2 separate regions of the Homo sapiens genome follow, and region 1 is linked to region 2. The links come from fine-mapping of genetic effects on gene expression. A gene starts in region 2. The other region holds a variant in brackets. All regions are shown on one strand. Distances are from middle to middle.

Evidence for each region. PIP is the estimated chance that this variant, and not a neighbour inherited with it, causes the effect.
Region 1: its variant is fine-mapped to the expression of NPSR1 in prefrontal cortex (BrainSeq, PIP 0.92).

Annotation. Positions count from the first base shown.
Region 1 is chr7:34,796,873-34,804,872 of GRCh38, forward strand. The region is part of intron 3 of NPSR1 (neuropeptide S receptor 1); the gene reads left to right. It also overlaps a transcript of NPSR1-AS1 not described here. Among named protein-coding and RNA genes, the nearest start is that of NPSR1-AS1, 43 kb to the left of the region's middle. The variant G/A (reference allele first, on the strand shown) is at 4,979.
Region 2 is chr7:34,650,290-34,662,255 of GRCh38, forward strand. NPSR1 (neuropeptide S receptor 1) reads left to right here and starts at 7,929. Exons shown (of 9, transcript NM_207172.2): 1 at 7,929-8,270. The coding sequence starts at 8,124. All of the region lies in intron 2 of NPSR1-AS1 (NPSR1 antisense RNA 1), which reads right to left. RefSeq lists enhancers at 1,593-2,178, 4,108-5,307, 9,968-10,805, 11,642-11,966.

The sequences.
Region 1 (8,000 bases), 140 kb after region 2:
ACAAACGTTTATATCATGTTTATTCCTATTTTCCAAACTTGGAAGCAACCAAGATGTCCTTTGGTAGGTAAATGGAGAAATAAGCTGTGGTACATCCATACAATGAAATATTATTCAGTGCTAAAAAGAAATGAGCTGTCAAGCTTATTTAAAGGTTACGTGTCTCATGCAAAGACATGGAAGAAATTTATGCATATTAGTAAGCAAAAGTGACAGTCTGAGAAGCTACATACTGTAGATTCCAACTTTATGACATTCTGGAAAAGGCAAAACTCTGGAGAAAGTGAAAACATTAGTGGTTGCCAGGGCTTGGGGAGAGGGAGGCAGAGCACAGAGGGGGAACAAAGGGCAGTAGAACTACTCTGTACTATACTATAACAGTGGACACATGTCTATACTTTTGTCAAAATACAATGTATAACACCAAGAGTGAATCCTAATGTAAACTATGAACTTTGGGTGATAATGATGTGTCAATGTAGGTTCATCCACTGTAACAAATATACCACTCTTGCATGGAAGCGTGATGGTGAGTGAGGCTCTGTGTATGGGGGACAGGGGGTTTATGGGAAATCTGTAACTTCTGCTCAATTATGTTATTAATCTAAAACTGCTCTAATAATAAAATCTACTTTTAAACATGTAATAGAATTCCCAAGAACTGTGGGACAATTACACAAAGTGTAGCACACACATATAACAGAAATACCAAAAAAAGAAAAGAGCAGAAGAAGTATTTGAAGAAATAAAAGATGAAAAATTTTCTAAATTAATGGCAAACACCAATCCAGAGATCCAGGAAGCTCAGAGAACACCAAAGCAAAATAAATGTCAGAAAAAATGTACCTCTAGGCATATCATATTCAAACTGCAGAAAACCAAAGACAAAGATAAAATCCTGATAGAAGTTGAGGGGGAAACTTACAGATAAATAAACAATAATAAGAATTTCCTCTGACTTATCAGAAATCAGCCAAGTAAGAAGATAGTATAATAAAATATTTAAAGTGGGAAAAGAATACAAATCCCCCTGACCTAGAATTCTCTATCAAGTGAAATTATTCTTCAAAAGTGAAGAAGAAATAAAGACTTTCTCAGACATACAAAAACAGGAAATTTCTCAAAAGTAAACTTTTCTTACAAAAAATGCTAAAAGAAGTTCTTCAGATAAAGGGGAAAATGATAAAATAATAAGCACAAATCAATATAAAGGAAGAGCAATTGAGAAGGAATAAATGAAGGCAAATTAAAGCTACTTTTCTTACTCTTAATTGACCTATAGATAGTTGCTCGACACAAAAATAGCAATAATGCATTGGTAATCATTATTACCACTTATTAGGATAAGTGAACTGAATGACAATATTAAAAGAGATGCAGCCCAGGCACGGGTGGCCCATGCCTGTAATCCCAGAACTTTGGGAGGCCGAGGCAGGTGGATCACTTGAGGTCAGGAGCTTGTGGCCAGCCTGACCAACATGGTGAAACCCCGTGTCTACTAAAAATACAAAAATAGGCCAGATGTGGTGGCACGCACCTGTAATCCCAGCTACTCGGGAGGCTGAAGCAGGAGAATCTCTTGAACCCGGAAGGCGAAGGTTGCAGTGATCCAAGATTGTACCACTACACTCCAGCCTGGGTGACAGAGTGAGACTCTGTCTAAGAAAAAGGGGCGGGGGGTTGAATGCAAAGAGAAATACAATTTAACTGAACAGCTATCAGTTAAAGTGAACTGAACTATTAATTAAATGGATCTAATTGGCATTTGTAGAATACTTCATCCAGTAATAGCAGAATATATCTTCTTATCAAACTTATATGCGATTTCCATCAAGAGAAACTTCATATGGACCATAAAACACATTTTAACAATGTAAAAAAATAGAAATTACACAAAGTATACTCTCAGAACACACAGAATAGAACTAAAAATCAGTAACAGAAGGATAGCTGAAAATTTTCAAACTGTTTGGAGATTGAACAACACACTTCTAAGTAATAAGTGAATTGAAGAAGATATCTCAAGAAATATTTTGAAATAAATGAAAATGTAACATCATAGTTTGTAGGATGCAGTAAAAGCAGTTCTTTGAGTGAAATTTATAACACTGAATGGATATATTAGAAAATAAAAAAATGTGATATTAATAAACTAATCTTAGGCCTTAGGAAACTAGAGAAAGAAAAGAAATGTAGGCCTAAAGAAAGCAGAATAAAAGAAATGATAAAAATTGGAGCATAAATTATTAAATTGAAGTAGAATTTAAATTTTCTCTGCAGAGTAAGTATGTGAGGTAATGAATATGTTAATTAGCTTTACTTAGCCATTCCACATGTATACATAAACACGTTATACAGCATAAACGTATATTATTTTGTTTTTCAATTAAAAATTTAATTAAAATCAGAAAAAATTAATAATTAAATTTAAAACAGGAATTCAATACTGAAAAATCAATGAAACCAAAAGCTGTTTCTTTAAAAAGATAATAAAATTGATAAATTTCTAGCCAGGCTAATCAAGAAAAGAAGAGGATTCAACATTCTTAAAGAAAACAATTTTCAACCCAGAATTTCATATCCAGCCAAACTAAGCATCATAAGTGAAGGAGAAATAAAATATTTTACAGACAAGCAAATGCTGAGAGACTTTTGTCACCACCAGGCCTGCCCTAAAAGAGCTCCTGAAGGAAGCACTAAACATGCAAAGGAACAACCGGTACCAGCCACTGCAAAACCATGACAAAATGTAAAGACCATCGAGAGTAGGAAGAAACTGCATCAACTAACGAGCAAAATAACCAGCTAACATCATAATGACAGGATCAAATTTACACATAACAATATTAACCTTAAATGTAAATGGGCTAAATGCTCCAATTAAAAGACACACACTGGCAAATTGGATAAAGAGTCAGGACCCATCAGTGTGCTGTATTCAGGAGACTCATCTCATGTGCAGAGATACACATAGGCTCAAAATAAAGGGATGGAGGAAGATCTACCAAGAAAATGGAAAGCAAAAAAAAGCAGGGGTTGCAATCCTAGTGTCTGATAAAATAGACTTTAAACCAACAAAGATCAAAAGAGTCAAAGAAGGCCACTGCATAATGGTAAAGGGATCAATTCAACAAGAAGAGCCAACTATCCTAAATATATATGCACCCAACACAGGAGCACCCAGATTCATAAAGCAAGTCCTTAGAGACCTACAGAGAGACTTAGACTCCAACACAATAATAATGGGAGACTTTAACACCCCACTGTCAATATTAGACAGATCAACGAGACAGAAGGTTAACAAGGATATTCAGGACTTGAACTCAGCTCAGCACCAAGCAGACTTAATAGACATCTACAGAACTCTTCACCCCAAAACAACAGAATATACATTCTTTTCAGCACCGCATTGCACTTATTCCAAAATTGACTACATAATTGGAAGTAAAGCACTCCTCAGCAAGTGTAAAAGAACAGCAATCACAACAAACTGTCTCTCAGACCACAGTGCTATCAAATTAGACCTCAGGATTAAGAAACTCACTCAAAACCGCACAACTACATGGAAACTGAATAACCTGCTCCTGAATGACTACTGGGTACATAGTGAAATGAAGGCAGAAATAAAGATGTTCTTTGAAACCAATAAGAACAAAGACACTATGTACCAGATTCTCTGGGACACATTTAAAGTAGTGTGTAGAGGGAAATTTATAGCACTAAATGCCCACAAGAGAAAGCAGGAGAGATCTAAAATTGACACCCTAACATCACAATTAAAAGAACTAGAGAAGCAAGAGCAAACAAATTCAAAAGCTAGCAGAAGGCAAGAAATAACTAAGATCAGAGCAGAACTGAAGGAGATAGAGACACAAAAACCCTTCGAAAAGTCAATGAATCCAGGAGCTGGTTTTCTGAAAAGATCAACAAAATTGATAGACTGCTAGCAAGACTAATAAAGAAGAAAAGAGGGAAGAATCAAATAGATGCAATAAAAAATAATAATGTGGATATCACTACCAATCCCGCAGAAATACAAACTACCATCAGAGAATACTATAAACACCTCCATGCAAATAAACTAGAAAATCTAGAAGAAATGGATAAATTCCTGGACACATACACCCTCCCAAGACTAAACCAGGAAGAAGTTGAATCTCTGAATAGACCATTAACAGGCTCCAAAATTGAGGCAATAATTAATAGGCTACCAACCAAAAAAAGTCCAGGACCAGACCAATTCACAACTGAATTCTACCAAAGGTACAAAGAGGAGTTGGTACCATTCCTTCTGAAACTATTCCAATCAATAGAAAAAGAGGGAATCCTCCCTAACTCATTTTATAAGGCCAGCATCATCCTGATACCAAAGCCTGGCAGAGACAAAACAAAAAAAAGAGAATTTTAGACCAATATCCTTGATGAACATCGATGTGAAAATCCTCAATAAAGTACTGGCAAACTGAATCCTGCAGCACATCAAAAAGCTTATCCACCATGATCAAGTCGGCTTCATCCCCGGGATGGAAGGCTGGTTCAACATATGCAAATCAATAAATGTAATCCAGTATATAAACAGAACCAAAGACAAAAACCACATGATTATCTCAATAGATGCAGAAAAGGCCTTTGACAAAATTCAACAACCCTTCATGCTAAAAACACTCAATAAATTAGGTATTGATGGGACATATCTCAAAATAATAAGAGCTATCTATGACAAACCCACAGCCAATATCATATTGAATGGGCAAAAACTGGAAGCATTCCCTTTGAAAACTGGCACAAGACAGGGATGCCCTCTCTCACCACTCCTATTCAACATAGTGTTGGAAGTTCTGGCCAGGGCAATTAGGCAGGAGAAGGAAATAAAGAGTATTCAATTAGGAAAAGAGGAAGTCAAATTGTCCCTGTTTGCAGATGACATGATTGTATATCTAGCCCCATCATCTCAGCCCCAAATCTCCTTAAGCTGATA[G/A]GCAACTTCAGCAAAGTCTCAGGATACAAAATCAATGTACAAAAATCACAAGCATTCTTATACACCAATAACAGACAATCAGAGAGCCAAATCATGAGGGAACACCCATTCACAATTGCTTCAAAGAGAATAAAATACCTAGGAATCCAACTTACAAGTGACGTGAAGGACCTCTTCAAGGAGAACTACAAACCACTGCTCAATGAAATAAAAGAGGATACAAAGAAATGGAAGAACATTCCATGCTCATGGGTAGGAAGAATCAATATCGTGAAAATGCCCATACTGCCCAAGGTATTTTATAGATTCAATGCCATCCCCATCAAGCTACAAATGACTTTCTTCACAGAATTGGAAAAAACTACTTTAAACTTCATATGGAACCAAAAAAGAGCTCACATCGCGAAGTCAATCCTAAGCCAAAAGAACAAAGCTGGAGGCATCACACTACCTGACTTCAAACTATACTACAAGGCTACAATAACCAAAACAGCATGGTACTGGTACCAAAACAGAGATATAGATCAATGGAACAGAACAGAGCCCTCAGAAATAACGCCGCATATCTACAACTATCTGATCTTTGACAAACCTGAGAAAAACAAGCAATGGGGAAAGGATTCCCTATTTAATAAACGGTGCTGGGAAAACTGGATAGCCATATGTAGAAAGCTGAAACTGGATCCCTTCCTTACACCTCATACAAAAATCAATTCAAGATGGATTAAAGACTAAATTGTTAGACCTAAAACCATAAAAACCCTAGAAGAAAACCTAAGCATTACCATTCAGGACATAGGCATGGGCAAGGACTTCATGTCTAAAACACCAAAAGCAATGGCAACAAAAGCCATAATTGACAAATGGGATCTAATTAAACTAAAGAGCTTCTGCACAGCAAAGGAAACTACCATCAGAGTGAACAGGCAACCTACAAAATGGGAGACAATTTTTGCAACCTACTCATCTGACAAAGGGCTAATATCCAGAATCTACAATGAACTCAAACAAATTTACAAGAAAAAAACAAACAACCCCATCAAAAAGTGGGCGAAGGACAAGAACAGACACTTCTCAAAAGAAGTCATTTATGCAGGCAAAAAACACATGAAAAAATGCTCACCACCACTGGCCATCAGAGAAATGCAAATCAAAACCACAATGAGCTACCATCTCACACCAGTTAGAATGGCAATCATTAAAAAGTCAGGAAACAACAGGTGCTGGAGAGGATGTGGAGAAATAGGAACACTTTTACACTGTTGGTGGGACTGTAAACTAGTTCAACCCTTGTGGAAGTCAGTGTGGCGATTCCTCAGGGATCTAGAACTAGAAATACCATTTGACCCAGCCATCCCATTACTGGGTATTTACCCAAAGGACTATAAATCATGCTGCTATAAAGACACATGCACACGTATGTTTATTGCGGCACTATTCACAATAGCAAAGACTTGGAACCAACCCAAATGTCCAACAGTGATAGACTGGATTAAGAAAATGTGGCACATATACACCATGGAATACTATGCAACCATAAAAAAGGATGAGTTCATGTCCTTTGTAGGGACATGGATGAAATTGGAAATCATCATTCTCAGTAAACTATCGCAAGGACAAAAAATCAAACACCGCAGGTTCGCACTCATAGGTGGGAATTGGACAATGAGAACACATGGACACAGGAAGGGGAACATCACACTCTGGGGACTGTTGTGGGGTGGGAGGAGGGGGGAGGGATAGCATTAGGAGATATACCTAATGCTAAATGACAAGTTAGTGGGTGCACCACACCAGCATGGCACACGTATACATATGTAACTAACCTGCACATTGTGTACATGTACCCTAAAACTTAAAGTATAATAGTAATAAAATAAAATTTAAAAAAAGATAGCATGAGTAGAAAAAAAAAAAAGAAGAGGGAAGCCACAAGTTACTAATATCAGAAATGAAAGAGGGGTCATCACTACTGATTCTGTGGACATTAAAAGAATGATAAATAAATACCATAAACAACTCTATGCCCACAAGTTTGATAGCTTAGATGAAATGAACCTATTCCTTGAAAAGCTCAATCTGCCAAAACTCACATAAAGTGAAATAGATAATTTGAATAGGCCTATACCTACTAAAGAAACTGAATTAATAATTAATAATCTTCCACAAAAGAAAACACCAGGCCCAGATGGGTTCATTAGTGAATTCTGTCAATCATTTAAAAAAAAAATGGTAACAATTATCTGCAGTCTTCTCTAGAAAACAGATGAAAAGGGAACCATTCCTAATTCATATACTTGCTGACTTGTTCCATGAGGCCAGAAATGCCCTAATTCTAAAACCAATGATATTAAAAGAAAGGAAAACTACAGAACAATATCCCTCATGAACATAAATGCAAAAATTCTCAATAAATATTAGCAACTTAAATTTTTGTTTAAAGGTATAATCATGTATAGAAAGAATTATAGTCCGTGGCCAAGTGAGATTTATTCCAGGCATGAAAATCTGGTTAAATATTTAAAAATCAATTAATATAATCTATCACACAAACAAGATAAAGAAGGAAAATTATGTGATTTTTCCATCAATGGACACAGGAAAAGCATTTAACAAAATTCAACATCCATTTATAATAAAAACTCAGCAAACTGGAAACAAAGAGAAACTGCCTCAACTTCATTAACAGCATCTAAAAAAACCATACAGTTAACCTCATATTTAATGGCAAGAAATTAGGTGCTTTTGTCCTAAGACTGGGAACAAGGTAAAGATGTCCTCTCTCGCCACTCCCATTCAACACTGAACTAGATGTCTTAGATAATTTAACAGGACAAGAAAAGTAAATAAAAAGTTTATACATTGGAAAAGATGAAATAAAAATGTCTTTGTTAATAAATTTGTAATTTTCTATATTAAAATCTGAAAGAATAGACAAGAAAAATAAAAACAAACAAAAAAGAAACTTCCAGACCTAGTAGGCAAAAAAATGGCAACACTGAAGAATAGAAGGTTAATATAC
Region 2 (11,966 bases):
CATGTGCACACACACAGGCATTTGTGAAATTATCTTATAAATAGAATTCCAGGTATTTTTTCAAAAACTGAACATATATATATAATGTTTTAAAATATTTCAAAAGATAGAACTTGCCTTCAAAATATAATTCAAGAAATAAACAAAACTTGAAATTAAACTGAACAAAAATATAAACATTTAGAAGTCACTTCCAAGTAATTCTTTGGTCTAAGAAGAAATCAGACACACATTGTATTTATTGTAGAAAATAATGAAAATGAAAATACCACATATCAGACTCTCCAGGTCACAGCTAAAAGCAGATTCAGAGGAAAATTCGTTGCCTTAAATGCTTCAATTATAAATATGAATGAATGAAAATAAACGTTAAGTATTTAATCCAAGCATTCAGATTTTTTAAAGACAGCAAAATTAAGAAAGAAAAAGAAGGAATTGATGAAGATGTAGTAATAGCAATTGTACTTCAATAAAATATTTTGAGGAAATAATCAGACAAGAGCTCAAGAATGTTTGTTCGGTGCTGTTTCTGGAAACTCAGAAAAAACTTTAATCTTTATTATAGGGATGATTGAATAAATCATAACACATTTCATGTTAGCAGAACAAAGAGACACTAAAATATATACCTTAATACAAAAATCTACAACAAGTGGAATTAAAAAGCAGAATGCAGAGCTGAATATAAGAATCACAATTGGGCACTGAGGAATACATTAGCAGTTAATATAAGTTGTGTCTTTACATCTTCAGGTATTTATTTAAAGGAACTACAGTTTGGTGTTATAATTAGAAAAATACAACCCTAAAAGTATGGACTGTGAAATCATATTTATTCTAGTGTCCTCCTTTAAGTAGAACATTGCATTCCATTTCTTTAGGGACTGTATTTCTTAATCATTGTAACAGGTATAACCTCTTGTACCCATTACAGCAAGCAATTACTAAATATAATATACCACATTTGTCTTTTCTGCAGGATCCCAAGAATTTCTCTGCCCTCAAAGCAATTTTCTGTTTAATGCTATGCTGAGGATACTCTTATTTCATACTAATGATTTAGAACCCTCACCACCATATCAGAATTCCAAGCCAAAACTAAGGTACTATGAAAAGTTAACTGGTGTGGAAAGTCAATGGTCATTTCTTATCTTATTTCTCTACTTGAAGAGTTATTCCTTACCAAGAGCTCTCCGCACCTTCACTATGGGGAAATATGCACCTACTTTAAGGAAATATTATGGGAATTAAATGTTGTGACATCTTTCAGGCACCCAGCACAGTGGTGAGATGGAGTTCCCCCTTTACCTTCTCCCATATTCTTTCCTGATCCTATCTGAGTAATTACAACTCTTCCAACCAATCCACTTTTACACAGTTTTTTTTATAGAATAAACATCCAAATGCAGCATCTGTGATATATCTGAATTAAATAGTGGGTGCAACAACATGGCTATTTCAAGCTTAAATGTCAGCTAATTTTTTTGAAAGCAAAGTCATGGGAGTGAGTGTCTGTTTACACCTAATGCTGAGAAATTTAATCTCTGCAGGCTGTGACACATTCTGATATCAGAGGATCAAAATCCCACTGGTGGAAGTTAATTTCCTTTGCTCTACAATCCACACTTACCATTCTGCACTCAGGTGGGAAAATAAAACTTGTGTTCTTCATCCAAAGTTACTAAAAACACCCAAGCCCAAATTTAAACCTCAAAACTATGAGCTCTGCTTCCTTGGAACTCAAAAGAATAATTCTCTTTGCTACTCAGAGATTAATCACACTGCCTTTATCACCTACTATGCTTGTGTTATTTTACTCTTCTTTTGTTATTTAACTGAGAGCATTTGTGTCTATTCTACCCAACCAAACCATGAATTTGCATGTGTCAGGGAAGCTCTGGCAAAATCTGATACAACTTATTCCTCATATATTAATTGCTTAATACAGTTTTTGTGATTGAATTTTGAGCTAATAACATATTTTAATTCAATACAGCATGCATTTTTAAACACTCTGAGAATGTCCAAAAACAATTTGGCACTTAGGTAAGAAGAGACTTTATTCAGGCTGGGTGCGGTGGGTGGCTCACGCCTGTAATCCCAGCCCTTCGGGAGGCCGAGGCGGGCGGATCACAAGGTCAAGAAATCGAGACCATCCTGGACAAAATGGTGAAACCCAGTCTCTACTAAAAATACAAAAATTAGCTGGGCGTGGTGCCATGGGCCTGTAGTCCCAGCTACTGGGGAGGCTGAGACAGGAGAATTCCTTGAACCCGGGAGGCGGAGATTGCAATAAGCTGAGATCACGCCAGTGCACTCCAGCCTGGCAACAGAGCAAGACTCCATCTTAAAATAGAATAAAATAAAATAAAGAGACTTTATTCGAAAGGATTAGTGCAAGAGGGAGACTGGACCATTACAGTAAGGAGAAAGGGGCTGTTGTAGTTTGGAGAACATTCTTATCATGAGATCTGGAAGTATCTCAAGGGTTAGGAAAAAAGAGATTCTCTTTCATAGGAAAGAATAGACAAGGCTAGAAAGAACCAGGTGTGGAGAAGTACCATGACAGGAGTGACACGATCTGCCAGTAGATGAGGGAATATTTTACCCTGAACTCTGCAGCGTACTCCAGGGAGAGGCTGTGGAGGAGGAGCTGTGTGCTGGCTGAGGCTGAGGGCGGGACAAAGTTCAGCCTAGGAGAAGCAAAGAATCTTAACCAAAGTTGGTTTAGCCTGCATTTTTTTCTGATTGATCAGTGGGGACAAAACAGCTTAGCTAATATCATTTATGAGACAAACAAAAGGAATTTAGAGGGTCTGCGTCTGGCCTTGTTATAAGTGTTGATGGCTATTTACTCTGTGTTGCTACAAAAATATATGTGAAATTGGGTAATTTAAAAAGAACAGAGGTTCATTTGGTTCACAGTTCTGCAGGCTGTACAAGAAGCATAGTGTCAGCATTTGCTTCTGGTGAGGGCCTTGGGAAGCTTACAATCATGGCAGAAGGCAAAGTAGGAACAGGCACGCCACATGGCAAGAGAGGGAGCAAGAGAGAAAGGAGGAGGTGCCAGGCTCTTTGAACAACCAGATCTCATGAGAACTAAAATCAAGAACTCACTCATTACTGCAAGAACAGCACCAAGCCCTTCATGAGGGATCCACCCCCATGATCGAAACACCTCCCACCAGGCCCCACCTCCAACATTAGAGGTCACATTTCAACATGAGATTTGAAGGGGACAAAACATTTGAACCATATCAATGCCCACAAGGCAGCATTGGTGAATCTGATTTAAGTCACATGGGGAATAATGGTTAGCTGCACAAAGCCCTTTCTGGAACACAAAGCAGTGGGGGCATTTATTAACCTTTTCTGTTTTCCAGGATCACAGGGTTCTGGTAAAGTTCAAACTTGTCAGAGGATACAAGGAGAAAAGGTGCAGTGTCTCCATTCAGGAATTTGGAGACTAAAGAAAGAGTCAAGGAAAAATTGTTCACATTTTTAAAAATAGTAACGATTAAGCAGAAGACAAGAAGGAAGACAATTAGATCTCATTTGATTTCCAATACCTTCATGATGCAGGCACCACAGTCTCTCAGTTAACAGATGAGAAGAAAGAGGCTTAGAACTGTTAAGTAAATAATCCAGGGACTCACAGACAGGACATAGCAGAGCCAAGTTTGAATCCAGATCATTTTGACAGCCCAGGGCACAGTTCATATATGAAAAGGCCAACTAACAAAATGTTAGCTAACAAATGCATCACTGTGGACAGTCAGGAAATACCTGCAAGCTCCAGAACTTTCTCATTTACATAGCACTAACAGAAACTTTTGGACTTTCCCTGCAATGAGGCAGAGTGTCAATCCCTACTGAGATGGACCCCAATAACCATTAAAAATACATATATAAAAAACAAGTTTAAATATTTTGCCTATAACTTTTATTCCAAAGCTTATGAACTCTTCTCTTTTAGCATTACAGGAAAATGATGTATTTGTTCAAGGATATAAAAATTGTGGCCAGGGCTCCCATAGTGAATGTATGAAGCAGGAAGCTGGGGGGATCCATGGAACCTTGAGCATTCTCTTCCAGAACTCTCCATCCCTGCTAAAGCTAAAATGCCTGTATCATGGGCAAAGCTTGTCACACTAGAAAGGTCAAAACTTAAAAATGTTCTTACCAAGTATCTCCCAGTAGTATGTGGCTGATATGAGACTGAGGCAAAGCTTCTCCTAGCAGAAAAGAAGGGACTCAGTAACCTGGGAAAGGTGACCTTCATCTAGAAAAGGAAGAGACAGAATTTCTACAAATGAGTTCAGGTAAGAATGTGTATTAGAGTTCTCCAGAGAAACAGAAATAGAACTAATAGGAGGGGTGTGTGTGTGTGTGTGTGTGTGTGTGTGTGTGTGTGTGTGTAGGGAGGGGGGAGAGAGAGAAACAGAGAGAGAAATTTATTATAGGGAATACAATATGAAATAATCATTCACACAATTAATAGAGACTAAGAAGTCCCAAGATCTGCAAGCAGCAAGTGTCAGGCCTCTGAGCCCAAGCCAAGCCATCGCATCCCCTGTGACTTGCACGTATACGCCCAGATGGCCTGAAGTAACTGAAGAATCACAAGAGAAGTGAAAAGGCCCTGCCCCGCCTTAACTGATGACATTCCACCATTGTGATTTGTTCCTGCCCCACCCTAACTGATCAAGGTACTTTGTAATCTCCCCCACCCTTAAGAAGGTTCTTTGTAATTCTCCCCACCCTTGAGAATGTACTTTGTGAGATCCACCCCTGCCCGCAAAACATTGCTCTTAACTTCACCGCCTATCCCAAAACGTATAAGAACTAATGATAATCCACCACCCTTTGCTGACTCTCTTTTCAGACTCAGCCCACCTGCACCCAGGTGAAATAAACAGCCATGTTGCTCACACAAAGCCTGTTTGGTGCTCTCTTCACACGGACGCGCATGAAAGCAAGCTGGAGACCCAGGAGAGCTGATGTGTAGTTCCAGTCTGAGTATGAAGGCCTGAGAACCAGGAGAGCCAATGGTGTAGTTCCAGTCTGAAAGCTGGCAGGCTTGAGACCCAGGAAGAACTGATGTTTCAGTTCAAGCCCAAAAGCCAGAAAAAAAACAATGTCCCAGCTCAAAGAAGTCAGGCAAGAGGAGTTCCCCGCTTTTCACAGAAGAATTAGCCTATTTATTCTATTCAGGCCTTTAATTGAATGGATGAGAGCCATTCACATTAGGGAGGGCAATCTGCTTTACTCAGTCTGCCAATTCAAATGCTAATCTCATCCAGAGCCACCTCACAGACACACCCAGAATAATGTTTAACTATTTGGGCACTCCATGGCCCAGTCAAACTGACACATACAGTTAATCATTATACCATGTTAGTTTGTCTTCTTGTCCACTCAACTTTCTTCTAACTACTGTATAGTATTCCATTGTGTTATATACATGCACAGTTATACTTTATAAAGATGAAAGGGCTGGGCACAGTGGCTCACACCTGTAATCCCAGCACTTTGGGAGGCCGAGGCAGGTGGATCACGAGGTCAGGAGATCAAGACCATCCTGGCTAACATGGTGAAACCCTGTCTCTACTAAAAATACAAAAAATTAGCCAGGCGTGGTGGCAGGCGCCTGTAGTCCCAGCTACTTGGGAGGTTGAGGCAGGAGAATGGCGTGAACCCAGGAGGCAGAACTTGCAGTAAGCCGAGATCGTGCCATTGCACTCCAGCCTGGGCAACAGAAAAAGACTCCATCTCAAAAAAAAAAAAAAAAAAAAAGGAAACAACCATATTTATTATTTTGCTTAATATTATGTTTGTAAGTTCCATTTATGTTATTTTTGGCTACAGATCATTTTCTTATTGCTATATAGTATTTCATTGTGTGACTACATGAAAATTTATTCATCCAGTTGATGGACATTTGGGTGGTTTCCAGTTTGGGATGATTCATTGATTTTGACATCATGAATATTTAGGTTGCTTCTGATACGTTTCTTTAATACTTTGCGAAGGCATCATTTTGCATGACTGCTTGTATAGATACATAAATGTTTCTCTTGGGTGGCCACAGGTTAAACAATGGTCTATCTGGATCATGAATGGAGAGAAAAGGAAACAACCAGAAAGCTCTCTCTCCCCACCTATTCTCTGTCCATGGCATCTGCCACTTTCTCTCACTCTGCCCCTACCACACTGTGACCTAACCAGCTTCTACCTTCTCCCAGGAGTTCCTCACAGATTTTGTCTTATAAACATTTTCTTGAAGTAAAACATACCTACAGAAAAGTGCATATGTTTTAAGTATGTAGTGCAAAGAATTTATGTGAATTGAGCATATGTAAGTAACCCAGATAGAGATGAAAAATTATTAGCATCTAGAAATGGAACAATGCATTAGAGGATATGTAATTCCAGCTTTACTAAATACTGCTGAATTGCTTTTCAAAAATTACCACATCAACTAACTCTCACCAGAAGTAAAGATGTACACCCGTTTCCCTTCAATCTTGTCAGCACTTGGGGATAGCCACACGCTAGCTTTCACTATAATAATAGGTAAACATTCTTACTGGTTTTAGTTATTTTCCTTAATTTTTAATATGGTTGAGCCTATCTTCATACTCATTTGTTAGTTGGAATATGCTGCACTTGTTTTGCTATTGAGTTGTTGTCCTGTTTTGAACCTTTCCTTAAGAGTCCACAGCTTATCCAGTTTTCTACACAACTCACTTCTGTTTGCTGCCCTTCATTATAGACTCAATGCCTTCTCATTGCTAGAGCACTGTGCCCTCCTTGGGGCTCGATGGTTTATAATAAAGCTTCCCCAGGAGATCTCATGGGGGCCAGGTTCTTTAGTGGTGGCCACTAAAGCTACTACCTCTTATTCCAGGTGCCATAAACCAGTGGCTGGACCTGGTTGGTTCACAGAGTGTTCTCAATGTGAGGAATCAGGTATTGTGCTTGGTTGTCATATAAGCAGCTTAGTTCCCATTGTTTTATACCTGGCCTGCTACCCTCATTCATGTTACCTTCATGCCCCATAGACATTTGAGATTTGATGCAAACCAGTCTGTTACAGTAAAAGCACCACTGTCTAGGAAGTTCTGGAGATGGGTTATCAGCTCATTTACATCAGCAGCTGCGGGATCTTGGGCAAGTCATTTCACCTATTGGAGCCACTCTCTGCTAGCATAAAGGAGAACATAAAGATACCTTCCCTGCCTATCTCACAAGGTTGTTTGGGAAACTGAATGAAAGAACGTGTAAATGTGCTTTGCAGGTTTTTTGTGAAACAGGAATAGCTGTTAGTATTCTCGCCTAGCCCTGTCTGTGGTGCCCAGGATGCTGCATTACCTCCTTTCTACCCTCGCCCTGAGTATTGGTCCTAGGTAGAAGCTGAGGTGAATATACTGAAAGCAGTAAGAATCTTCACCAGGCCCCTCCCAGTCATATCACAAGGTGTTGTAGCTTATTGACAAACACAGACCTCATGTTTCTCTGAGAACCGCCCTGTGAACACCTAGATAGAACTAAGGGTGTGAAATACAAACGTACTATTTGCCTACACTTACGGAAATAAGAGCACATGACACAGTAGATGGCAAGGTGAGGCTTTAAGTCAGAAAGCAACCTCAGCTGAAACAAATGCATAATTATAATTTGATTTCAGAAGTGGAAACATGACCCGAATTCATGCACCTACTGATTAGTCCAAATTCCTTTATTGTTGAAGCTGGAGCAGAAGTGGGGGTCCACCGTGGAAGTAAGGAAAAGCAAAACAGAACAGGGGTCTCATCCAGGGAGCCATGTCGATGGCTATGGGGAGCTCCACCTTGCTCTTGGGGTGGGGCCCTGGCCCTGGGTGGGACTGTGGGGTGATGAGGGTTGTGCTATGCTGGCTACCTGGTGGTAATTGCCAAGGAGAGAGCAGCACGTAGATCCTCCCTGTCATCAGGCAGAGCTCTTCAGTGAGGTGGGCTCAGGGAGGGCTCTGTGCCTCCGTTCAGCAGAGCTGCAGCTGCTGCCCAGCTCTCAGGAGGCAAGCTGGACTCCCTCACTCAGCTGCAGGAGCAAGGACAGTGAGGCTCAACCCCGCCTGAGCCATGCCAGCCAACTTCACAGAGGGCAGCTTCGATTCCAGTGGGACCGGGCAGACGCTGGATTCTTCCCCAGTGGCTTGCACTGAAACAGTGACTTTTACTGAAGTGGTGGAAGGAAAGGAATGGGGTTCCTTCTACTACTCCTTTAAGGTAAGTTTCTTGCCTGCGACTCTGAACACTGACTTATAACAATGAGACTGCTGGAACTTAAGAGTGTCAATTGAAGTATCATAGCCAGTATTGTGAATGAGTGTTATTTTCTTTACTAAAAAGGATTTTTAAAAGTCTGAAGTGCTAAAACAACAAGCTGTAGTGTGCAGAGACCTAGATTGTAGTTTCTTAGGAATACAGGTGACGTTTTTCTTTCTGATGCTGCTGGAAATGTGTGAATCGTGAGTAACATTTATGAGTGGATGATTTTTACTTTCCCCCTTTCCTTAGGTGAAAGCACTTTTAATTAATCCTATAGCAGTACTTGAAATGTCTGTTTCTAGTAGGGGTTAGAGCTATGAGTTTTTTGCTAGGAACACCAGAGATGCGGAAAGCTCACAATCCCCAGGACAGTGACTGATATGATGAGAAACAACATTGAATAAGGCAGGAAGGACGACACTTTCTTTGATGATCCTTTTCATTAAACATCAGTGAGGAATATATTTCTTTGAGGGTAGTTGATGATGCCACCATTTGCAACAAATTACCTCCTAGAACAAATGAAGGACAGAGAGTTTGGTGAGTTTCACCTTCAAAGTATCCAAGGGCCACACTGAGGAAGGATCTTCATTAAGCTAATACTGTATTGTTTCTTATTCCGCAACAAGATCTTGTGGACAGAAATGAACCGCACATTTGGGAAAAGAACAGTTTCCTGCTTCTTGCCTCAGAATGCTGGGTTGTCAGGTTATTTCACACCTGTCTAACGATATGTTTAGTCATTGCAATAATTCACAGGTCTCAAACTGGTCCTTTCCACTGAAGAAAAAATACTTCAAAAAGATTCTAGTTGTTGCTTTGTTGGGTTTTGTTGTTGTTGTTGTTGTTAATCCTCTGTATGTTCTTGAAATGATTTGGTTTTTACACAATGAGATAGCATTACTGTAACATCCACCTCCCTACTGGAAGTTCACTTCTTTTGCAAATATTCAGAATAAAACTTTCAGCAGGGTGCTGTCCCAGGAGTCAGACTTAAACTTCCAGGGCCCTAATGATCCTGCAGCAAAGCAGAACCTGAGCAAACTACTCCTCCACTGGCTTCAGTGAAACCCTGTCCCTTGGAATCACCTCCTAATGCATATGCACATACGCAGCCCAGCTGCACAGCTCCACGATGTAGCTTAGAAAGTAAAATTAGAGTTTGTTGCCACTTAATGTCGACTGAATAATCCCCTTTATGAAATCAGCCTGCAGACCCAGAGAGTCTGTCTTGGCAGGCTGTGTGCACCCAGGAAGCACAGGACTCCACTCAGTATTGCTGCCTGTGTAGCCTCTTTGATATTCTTAGAACATGATAGCAAGCAGAATGAAGAGAGGCCCTCCATTGCAAAGGGAATAAAATCAGCAATAAGGTGGTTATTCTGAGACTCTGGCAAGAATCAATCTCAGCTGAAATCTCATTTGCCATTTTTTGAATATAGCACCTACAGGGATATTTGGAATATGTGAAGAAACAAATCCCACCTTGCTCTCTATGAGTGTTTGTCCTCTCTATCCTAGCAACATCATCGCCAGACACTAAAGAGAATCACAGCATCTCTAGCTGATTCCTATTGATATGTTTGCAGCAAAACGGCTGGACCACTGGACAAGGAGAAAAGCAGAAAGACAGGAATTGTGTTTGGCCAGGAGCTTAGAATGCTCAGATTCATTATTTGAGAGATACGTGTATTGACTAAAACCCTGTGATTTTTAGTTACACAGTGATTACTGGTGGTATTTGTGAGAACTTAGCTTATATTTCTTAGTGTAACTTTTTTTCTATGATCCCCTTTGGGCACAAGCAATTCTAATGCATTGTTGATACAGAAATAGTTCCAATGCAAGCCCTTGTTCACTGCAATTCATTTTATCTGACATACTTCTAGAGAAGAAATTCGAAACCATGCTCCCTTTACTGTCTCCCAGATGTATCCCCTTTAATCCCCATTGCCTTCATCAAAAGCAGTAAAAAAAATAGCATGAAAATAAAAATAGCAGCAGCAGTAAAAGTCACAGAAATAACAGCAACAACCATACGTCTCATTTACTTTGGGCATTCTTGGTGCCAAGAGTCATAGCAAGACTCACTTAGCAAGTGACTTCTGTGAAGTATCTCATTTAATTCTCACAATCCATGGTGTATCTTTCCTTCCGGTCCTGCCTTCCATCTTCATCTGTTTATCTCAATTTTACCCAGTCTATAAAGCTCAGCTTGGGTTGCTTCCTCCATGAAGCCCTCCTTGACTCATCCCTCCCTGACTCATCCCTCCCTGAGCTTCATTAGTGTCACGGACTGTACCTCTCTTCTTGCCACTTAATGCAGTTCTGTCTTAAACTGCTATTTCCATATGTGTTGGCTGAATGTGTTACAGTCCTCAAGCTCCTTGAGTAAAATGAATGCCTTATATTTGTTTCATATTTTCTCCCAGGACCTACCACTATGTTAGTCATACTCAATAAACATTGACTGCATAAACAAATTGTGATGTGTTTTTTCTTCCAATTACCAACATTTTGTCAAATAAGCAACAGAAAGCATGTATTCCCTGTGACAGAGGTGGGTGGGGGCTCTCATTAACCAAGTTTCCACCCATCAGCCCCTACCCTGCCTGGTCTCTATACTCACCCAGGTCCCTTTCTGCAAGCATGTTCAGCTTGTCCCTATTCCATTTCTAAGCCAATGAGACCAAAGTCGGTTCTAGATTCCAGTGGGTGGGGTATGGAATTAGCTGAGGCACCATGAGCTGGTACCAAGTACCTGGTCCAGCCCTGGGGAATCCATCTCTATTGCATGGCAGCCTTACCTAGTCTCAGCTGTCTTGCTCCGTCCACTTACCTAGGCTCCTGACTTCGTTTCCCATCTCACATTCTAGTTCTTATCCTCTGAACTCCAAAGCTCTTTCAGGAGGAGACAAAGCACCCCGTCTAGATCTTACTGGCACTTCCTTCACAGGCTTAGAGTCTGTTCCTTCCTCCCACCTCCACCCTTGAATTCTGGCTTCTGCTTCCACCCCTCTAACCTACTCTACCTTCCTAAGCATGTGAGGCTCTTGGAAATGAGCAGGGAGGTCTAGGGTGGGTTCACCCATCCCATCTTCCACCATGGGCCTTGTGTAACTAACCCTACGTGGTCTTGGGTTCAAGATTCTCAGCTCAGACCCTGGCTCCCTTCACAGTTTCCAGTTTTGTGTGCTTTTAAGATCACATCCAGCTCACCTCTTCAAGACCTAGGTCTTGGCACTAAGGAATTATATGCGTTTCAAGAATCTACCAGAAGTTTTCAAGGGGAAATGGGAACCAGCTCATCAGAAAATAAATGAGGTATCTGAATATAAGGCTGTCCAAATGCAAAACAAATACAAAACTCTTCACACAGAAAGCCCTTAATTTTGCTGGTGAATTCACCAGCAATGTTTCCTGAATCTCTGATACTTAATGAGAAACCTAATTAGAAGTAACTGGGAGGGAGACCTGTCTTGATTAGTGAATTATCTAAATTATAAAATAATGTAAATGAAACTTAGTTTTATTACTCATAGGTGAGCACAGAAACATGAACTAAGACTGCTAAATATCACCTAATAACAATCTTTTATTGCGCCTCCTTCGGTGGATAGTTACAAGTGATACACAATTAGTCTATTGTTTATA